Linked DNA regions of Homo sapiens: region 2 is linked to region 1. The links come from fine-mapping of genetic effects on gene expression. A gene starts in region 1. The other region holds a variant in brackets. All regions are shown on one strand. Distances are between the middles of the regions.

Region 1 (4,406 bases):
AACAAGCTGTTATTAACAATAAATGTAGTTTTGCCTGAAATTCTTATCTATATGCAGGCCTCTTAAGCATCCAAGTTTTAAATTCTACTGCATTGTTATTGCAAAATGAAGCAGGCACAACAAAATTAAATCCACTAGCTAAAGGACTAAGTAAACAAAAATAGAAAAAGAAAAACAACAACAGCGAAAACCCTTGGGTTGTTTCCCAAGATTTTTTTTCCAAACAAATATTGATCTCACTTAGCATTTCTGATCATTTCATAGCCACAGATTAATAGCTACATGACAAAAAGACTTCAGAAGGATTAAGCTACACAACACTATACTAGTGTTTTAAATCATTTACCACAGTGTACATTTCTTGAAAACATTCTACTACTAAAACTCAAGGTCAAATTAATTAGTTTTTGAACTTTTCTTATATTTTTGAAACATATGTTTTAACTAACACTACAAGAAAAATACAGAACACAAGGCTTCTTATACCTTGAGTAACTATATCTAGGGCAGTTAATTTCAGGGCCATGTATACTCTGCTCTAACGATCAATGTCTTCTACTAATGCCTCAAGGTTTTTGCAACAAGCTTTAACTTCCTCAATTGCAGCCATCCAATTATCATAAATAATTTTGTCATAAATTGCATCATTAACTTCTCTAACTACCCCCTCCTGCTGAGATTCCAGTGCATCACCTGAGAAAAATAATACTGATCTTGGAATTATGTAAGTACGTAAATTGTGACCAAGTAAAAAATCATCATTTCCATCCCTTCCATTTGAGGTGATTCCATGAGGAGAGAAAAAATTGAAAAATGAATCCTTGGGAAAATCTTCAGTTACAGTTCGGATTGTTCCCCAGATCCGATGTTTCTGTTTCTTCTTGATGGTTTTCAAAGTGACATTCTTTCCTTCATTCCAATCTATCTCACAGCCTGTGGAATACTCAATCGCAGTTCCCCTATAGGGATGGGGATCATAATATGCTAGCTTTGACTTCAGCACATAGGTCTTTGTCAACAACTCATTTTTGAAATATTCATTGGGTTTGAAGTGAAATTCTAGTGTGAAACTGAGGGGCTCGCCAGGATCTGAAAGCTTAACTTTAATATCTGTCAGGAGCTTCAGAATAGGCTCATCATATTTCTTAATCAAAGGAGTGAGTGTATCAACGTTTTTTAAAACAGTTAGCCAAAAATCAGGAATTCCCTTAGGATCCTCCTCTTCTTTATTCTCTTCTCCAGTAGCCTCAATGTCGTCCTCCTCCTCCTCCTCCTCCTCCTCTTCCACAGCATAATCATAATAATAGTCCTCATAACCATCGTCCTCATCCACATATTCATGTACCATACCCTCCTCATTACCATACATCTCTTCATGACACATTTCCTCATCATCACAGTCCTCAGAGTCTGATTTATATTCACATTCCTCTTCTGTAGGTTCATAGATTGCATTGATGATCTGACGTCTTTTTTCCAGTAAGGGTTGGTACATTTCAGCAAACTTTCTTTCAATGTCATGAAATTCCCTCAGGAATTTGGATTCTAAATTGGCCGCTCTAGTTTGAAGCTTTTTAAGGGCTAACACACGGTACTTAACTTTCACAGGTAGACTTTCAACAAAGTCTGTATCTAAAACATAACCGATAAGTCCTTTTGGACGGTCTGCCTCTGAGTCCTCATCAGTATCGCCACCTTTTTTCCCATCTTCCCCGGACCCAGCAGCAGTATCTTCACCGTTTTCCCCTTCTTCCCCAAGCCCAGCGGCAGCTTCTTCACCGCACTTCCCATCGTCTCCAAGCCCAGCAGCGGCATCTTCACCGCGCTCCAGATGTTCCCCGAGCCCTTCCACCATTATCTGATTACCAGCCTCTTCTTGACTGGATTCTGACAGCTCCTTGCGGTTCTCTGACTCGGCCATTTTTCAAAGGACCGTACACGCCTAAGGTGGCTACCACAGAGATCGGGAGACCAAACCTCCACAGGAAAAGACTCACCGAAATATCAGAAGCGGCGGTGGTCGGACCTAGCAGTGGCGTCCGGACTGAGGGAACGACGATCCAGGCTGCTCGGGGATAAAAGATGGTGCTGAGGCTTTGAGAACCGGACTGAAGCAGTGGCGACCTGGGCTGGGTGCAGAGGGCGGCGACGGCTGCGTTGACCGATCCTGCAGGAGAGAGCCGGAGACTGCAGAGAGCTGCAGTGGGCAGACCTCCTCCGCAAGCAGCTACTGCTGCAAGAAAAAAACGGTGCCGCAGTATGATTACGCAGCTATCACTTGCCTAAAATTTCTAGGTGCAAATAGATTGCTGCGTCACCTCCTTCCCTCCCACAACTATGCTCTAATCTCATTTGCTGCAATGTAGTGACTGACAAACCCAGAGCCAGTAAATTATTAGATCTATCAAGTTTTCAACTCTGCTCACCTTCCCAGGCTCTCTAACATGGCTGATTCATCCACCTCCTCCTCGTCCTCTAGCCCATCTCCCGCAGAGTTTTCTGGAATCCCATTGCGTTCATTAGTTCATTCATCCAACTTTTAACAGATATTATACTTTTATGCTTTCCAGAGAGCTCAGAGAAAACGTAACTAAAATGTCGAACAATGAGAGAAGACAAGGCACCCACCCATCCTAAATCAATCTCTTTGATTTTAGATCGGGGACCTGGGGAGGGGAGAGGTGGATGGTGGAAGAGCTGATAAACAAACGCTTCAAAGATTAAAAACACCAGGAATTAGCACTGATGGTCTTTAGGTGGCGTGTCAGTTATTTAAATATTCTATATTATGTTTGTCGGTATTTTTCACAAGCTATATGATTTTAGGTTGAAAAATTCTCGAAACATTTCCTGTGAGGGGAGGAGGAGGAAGTCCGATGGCAGTGGGGGCGAATGAGGGCCTGTGATGAAAAACTAGTATGGTGTATACAACTACGTGACTAGTAAACATACCAGACAATTAACCACAATTAACCAGTTGCCTGGCTTATAAATAACCCCAGTCCCAATACTGACTTTCTGCTTCTCCTTCTTAATGCTGGCTTTAACAGCCGTTAGAAATATACATATATACAAAAGCCAAAATGGAAAGTTATGTTTATTCTTAGAAATCATAACATTTGCTTGATGCTTTTGAGTTAATTGGAAATAATCTAAATCTCAGCATTAAAGAAATGGTTAAACTATTTGATAATGTATTTATAGGATGGAAAGCTTTGCAGTAATTAAAATTTCCTCTCTATAGTAATTATTGGTGAGGTTTATTTTGTTCATATTTCTAACTTGGATCATTTATTAATTGAACAATTTTTTAAAATTTTAAGTGACTATTATTTTCCAGATTTAAAGAATTTGTTACTATCACAGATATTAAAACTGTTTACATATTGTTGTATTTATTTCTAAATTCTGTCAGTTTATAGATAAATTTTTCCTTTAAGTGAAAATACCAGATACAAAAGAACAAATATTGTATGATTCTACTTTAATTAGGTATCTAGAGCAGTCAAATTCACAGAGACAGAAAGTAGAAACATGGTTTTCAGAGGCTTGGGGTAGGGAGGAAAGGAAGTTATTGTTCAATGTGTATGGAGTTTCAGTTCAAGAAAAAGAAAATATTCTGGAGATGTATGGTGATGATGGTTCACAGCAGTGTGATTGTACTTAATGCTCCTGAAATGTAGATTTAAAAATAGGTAAAATGGTAAATATTATGTTATGTATATTTTATCATAATATAAAGTGTAGAGAAAAATATTTTAAAGACCATATTCAATATAGTACTGGAAGTCCTACCCAGAGCAATTTTGCAAGAGAAAAAAATAAAGGACATACATATTGGAAAGGAAGTTGCTAATTTATATCCTTGTTCAAAGAAGACATGATCTTATATTTAGAAAAACCTAAAGACTCCACAAAAAAACTGTTAGAACTAACAAATTAAGTAAGTTTGCATGAAGCAAAATCAACACACATAAATTAGTAGCATTTCTGTACACCAGCAGCAGACAATTTGAAAAAATCAAGAAAACAATCCCATTTACAATAGCTACAAGAAAATAATACATCTAGGAATAAATTTAACCAAAGAAGTGAAAGATCTACGCAATAAAAACTATAAAAACACTAATGAAAGAGATGAAGAGAACCCCAAAATGGAAAGATATCCTATGCTTATGGATTAGAAGAATCAATATTGTTAAAATGTTTATACTACCCAAAGAAATCTACATATTCAATGCAATCTCTATCAAAATACCAATGACATTCTTCACAGAAACAGAAAACAATATCCTAAAACTTTTATGAAACTACAAAAGATCCCAAATAGCCAAAATGATCCTGAGCAAAAAGGACAAAGCTGGAGGCATCACACTGCCTGATGACAAAATGTACTACAAAGCTGC
Region 2 (4,406 bases), 99 kb before region 1:
CTATTTCCACCACATGTGCAGTTACCTCTTCAGCTGAAGTCTTGAACTCCTTAAAGTCATTTATTAGGGTTGTAATCAACTTCTTCAAAATTCCCATTAATGTTAATGTTAATATTTGATCACAAATATTCTTAGTGGCAACTAGACTGGTGAATCCTTTCCAGAAGATTTTCAATGTACTTTGCCCAGATCCATCTGAGGAATCACCATCTATGGCAGTTTTGCCCTATGAAATTCATTTCTTAAATAATAAAACTTACTTCTTCATCCATAGGCTACAGAATGGTGTTGTGTTTAGCTAGCCTGAAAACAACATTACTCTCCTTGTATATCTCCATCAGAGTTCTAGGTGCATTGTCAATGGGTAGTAATATTTTGAAAGGAGTCTTTTTTTCTGAGCAGTAGGTCTCAACAGTGAATTTAAGATAAAAAATATTTACTCATGCCCCTTCCATTCCCTCCCTGTAATTCTTCCTCACACTGTCCTCCCCATCACCAGGCAACCACTGATCTGTTTTCTGTGGCTATAGATTACTTTTCATTTTCTAGAATTATGCACAACTGGTGATTGTCTCACACACACACACACACACACACATACACACATCACAATATGAACTTCTTTTGGCCTGGCTTCTTTCAATCAGAATAATTATTTTGAAATTCTTTGTGTTGTAAGGAATGTGTTGTGTTGTTTGTGTTATAATATATTAATAAATAGTGATGACTTATTGATTGCTGATAAGTACTCTGTTGTATAGATATGCAATGGTTTATTCATTCACCTGTTGATGGACATTTAAGATGTTTCTAATTTTTGGCTATTACAAATAAAGCTGTTATGAACATCCATGAACAAGTTTTGTGTAGATATATGCTTTCATTTGGCTTGGGTAAATTCCTTAGAATGAAATACCCGAGGCATATAAGTGTATATTTAACTCTTTAACATGTTGCAAAAACTGTTTTCCAAAGTGATTGTACCGTTTTTACATGCTTATCGGTGGTATATGACTGTTCCAGTCCCTTCACATCCTATCCCACACTTGATATGGAGAGTCATTTTAATTTTAGCCATTCTAACACATGTATAGTGGTATGAAATTGTGGTGTTTAGTTGTAGTTTCATCATGATCAGAAATATTAAACATATTTTCATGTGCTTATTTCTCATCCATGTCTCTTCTTTGGTAAAGTAATTTGCTCTAATATTTGGTCTTCTTCCATTTGGTTGGTTGTATTTTTATTACTGAGAATATACACATAGTTCTATGTGTATGTTCTGGATAACAGCCCTTTATCATTTACATGTTGCATTAAAGAAAAGTTTGCCTAACACAAGGTCATAACAGATTTTCATATGTTTTTGACTAGAATTTAAGCTTACATTTAGGTCTGTGGTCTACATTGAGTCAATTTTGGCTTATGTATGAGGTATGGAACAATGTTTTTTTTTTTGAGGGGTTATAAATACCCAATTGTTTCAACACCATTTGTTAAAAAGTCTATCCTTTCTACCCCGAATTGTCTTCATATCTGTGTTGAAAAATTGGTTGTCCTTATATGGGTATTTTATTTCTGCATTATCTATTTTGTTCCATCATCCATTTTTTTCCTATTTTTATGCAGTATCACACTGTCTTGGTGACTGTTGCTTTATAGTAAGTCTTAATTCTCCAACTCTGTCCTTTTTCAAGATTATATTGGCTATTCCAGGCCCTTTGTAATTCCACACAAATGTTAGAATATTCTTGTCTATTCTGCAAAAATCCCATCTGGAATATTGAATGAGATTGCATCAATTCTATAGTTCAATTTGGGAGAATTGACATGTTAACTATACTGAGTCTTCTGACCAGTGAACA[T/C]GAAATGTCTCTCAATTTGCTTAGGTCTTCTTTACTTTCTCTCAGCAGCAGTTTTCAATATATATATATATCTTGAAAATATTATCCCTAAGAATTTCATATTTTTGCTTGCTGTTATAAATTTATTTCAATTTCTTACCACTTTTACTACTATATATAAATAAAATTGAGTTTTTATATTGATTTTGTATCCTGAAACCTTACTAAACTGACTTCTTAGTTCTAGTTTCTCTTTTATGGATTCCTTAAGATTTTCTACATACAAAATTCCCGTCTGCAGCAAGATAGTTTTACTTCTTCCTTTCCTATCTGGATGCCTTTTATTTCTTTTACTGGCATAATTGTCCTGGCTAGAAGGCCCATAGAAGTGGTAGAGTGAACAGCCATGTCTTATTCCTGATCTCAAGGGGAAATGACTTGCTCTTTCAGCAATAAGTATAAGGTTAGCTGTCAGTTATTCATAGATGTCCATTATCTGGTTAAGTTTCCTTCTGTTCCTAGTTTGATGAGGCCTTTTATCATGAAATGGTGTTAAATTTTATGAATGCTTTATTGAGATGATCATATGATTTTTCTGTTTTTAGTTCACATGATGAATTATATTGTCTGTTTTTTAAAAGTTAAGTGAATCTTGTATTTCTGGGTAAACCCCATTTAGACACAATGTAGCAATTGTGAATGGGAGTTTACTCATGATTTGGTTCTCTGCTAGTCTATTATAGGTGTATAAGAATGCTTGTGATTTTTGCATATTGATTTTGTATCCTGAGACTTTGCTGAAGATGTTTATCAGCTTAAGGAGTTTTTGGGCTGCGACAATGGGGTTTTCTTTTTTTTTTTCAAAAGCCTTAAAGATCATTTATGCAGCCAAAAAACACATGAAAAAATGCTCGCCATCACTGGCCATCAGAGAAATGCAAATCAAAACCACAATGAGATACCATCTCACACCAGTTAGAATGGTGATCATTGAAAAGTCAGGAAACAACAGGTGCTGGAGAGGATGTGGAGAAATAGGAACACTTTTACACTGTTGGTGGGACTGTAAACTAGTTCAACCCTTGTGGAAGACAGTCTGGCAATTTCTCAGGGATTTAGAACTAGAAATACCATTTGACCCAGCAATCCCATTACTGGGTATATACCCAAAGGACTATAAATTATGCTGCTATAAAGACACATGTACACGTATGTTTACTGCAGCACTATTCACAGTAGCAAAGACTTGGAACCAAGCCAAATGTCCAACAATGATAGACTGGATTAAGAAAATGTGGCACAGGGAGGAGGAGCCAAGATGGCCAAATAGGAACAGCTCCAGTCTACAGCTCCCAGCGTGAGCGACGCAGAAGACAGGTGATTTCTGCATTTCCATCTGAGGTACCGGGTTCATCTAACTAGGGAGTGCCAGACAGTGGGCACAGGTCAGTGGGTGCGTGCACCGTGCATGAGCCGAAGCAGGGCGAGGCATTGCCTCACTCGGGAAGCACAAGGGGTCAGGGAGTTCCCTTTCCTAGGCAAAGAAAGGGGTGACAGACGGCACCTGGAAAATCCGGTCACTCCCACCCGAATACTGTGCTTTCCGACGCGCTTAAAAAACGGCGCACCAGGAGATTATATCCGGCACCTGGCTTGGAGGGTCCTACGCCCACGGAGTCTCGCTGATTGCTAGCACAGCAGTCTGAGATCAAACTGCAAGGCAGCAGCGAGGCTGGGAGAGGGGCGCCCGCCATTGCCCAGGCTTGCTTAGGTTAACAAAGCATCTGGGAAGCTCGAACTGGGTGGAGCCCACCACAGCTCAAGGAGGCCTGCCTGCCTCTGTAGGCTCCACTTCTGGGGGCAGGGCACAGACAAACAAAAAGACAGCAGTAACCTCTGCAGACTTAAATGTCCCTGTCTGACAGCTTTGAAGAGAGCAGTGGTTCTCCCAGCACGCAGCTGGAGATCTGAGAACGGGCAGACTACCTCCTGAAGTGGGTCCCTGACCCCTGATCCCCAAGCAGCCTAACTGGGAGGCACCCCCCAGCAGGGGCAGACTGACACCTCACACGGCCAGGTACTCCAACAGACCTGCAGCTGAGGGTCTTGTCTGTTAAAAGGAAAACTAACAAACAGAAAGGACATCCACACCAAAAACCCATCTGTACATCACCATCATCAAAGACCAAAAGTAGATAAAACCACAAAGATGGGGAAAAAACAGAGCAGAAAAACTGGAAACTCTAAAAAGCAGAGCACCTCTCCTCCTCCAAAGGAACGCAGTTCCTCACAAGCAACAGAACGAAGCTGGACGGAGAATGACTGACGAGCTGAGAGAAGAAGGCTTCAGATGATCAAATTACTCCGAGCTACGGGAGGACATTCAAACCAAAGGCAAAGACATTGAAAATTTTGAAAAAAAATTTAGAAGAATGTATAACTAGAATAACCAATACAGAGAAGTGCTTAAAGGAGCTGATGGAGCTGTAAACCAAGGCTCGAGAACTACGTGAAGAATGCAGAAGCTTCAGGAGCCAATGCAATCAACTGGAAGAAAGGGTA

The links. PIP is the estimated chance that this variant, and not a neighbour inherited with it, causes the effect. A credible set is the group of variants that fine-mapping cannot tell apart.
Region 2: its variant is the best candidate, but not a certain one, in a credible set for the expression of NAP1L2 in whole blood (TOPMed, PIP 0.74).

Annotation. Positions count from the first base shown.
Region 1 is chrX:73,212,572-73,216,977 of GRCh38, forward strand. NAP1L2 (nucleosome assembly protein 1 like 2) reads right to left here and starts at 2,280. Exons shown (of 1, transcript NM_021963.4): 1 at 1-2,280. The coding sequence starts at 1,921. The coding sequence ends at 539.
Region 2 is chrX:73,113,763-73,118,168 of GRCh38, forward strand. No RefSeq gene overlaps it. Among named protein-coding and RNA genes, the nearest start is that of PABPC1L2A, 36 kb to the left of the region's middle. The variant T/C (reference allele first, on the strand shown) is at 1,866.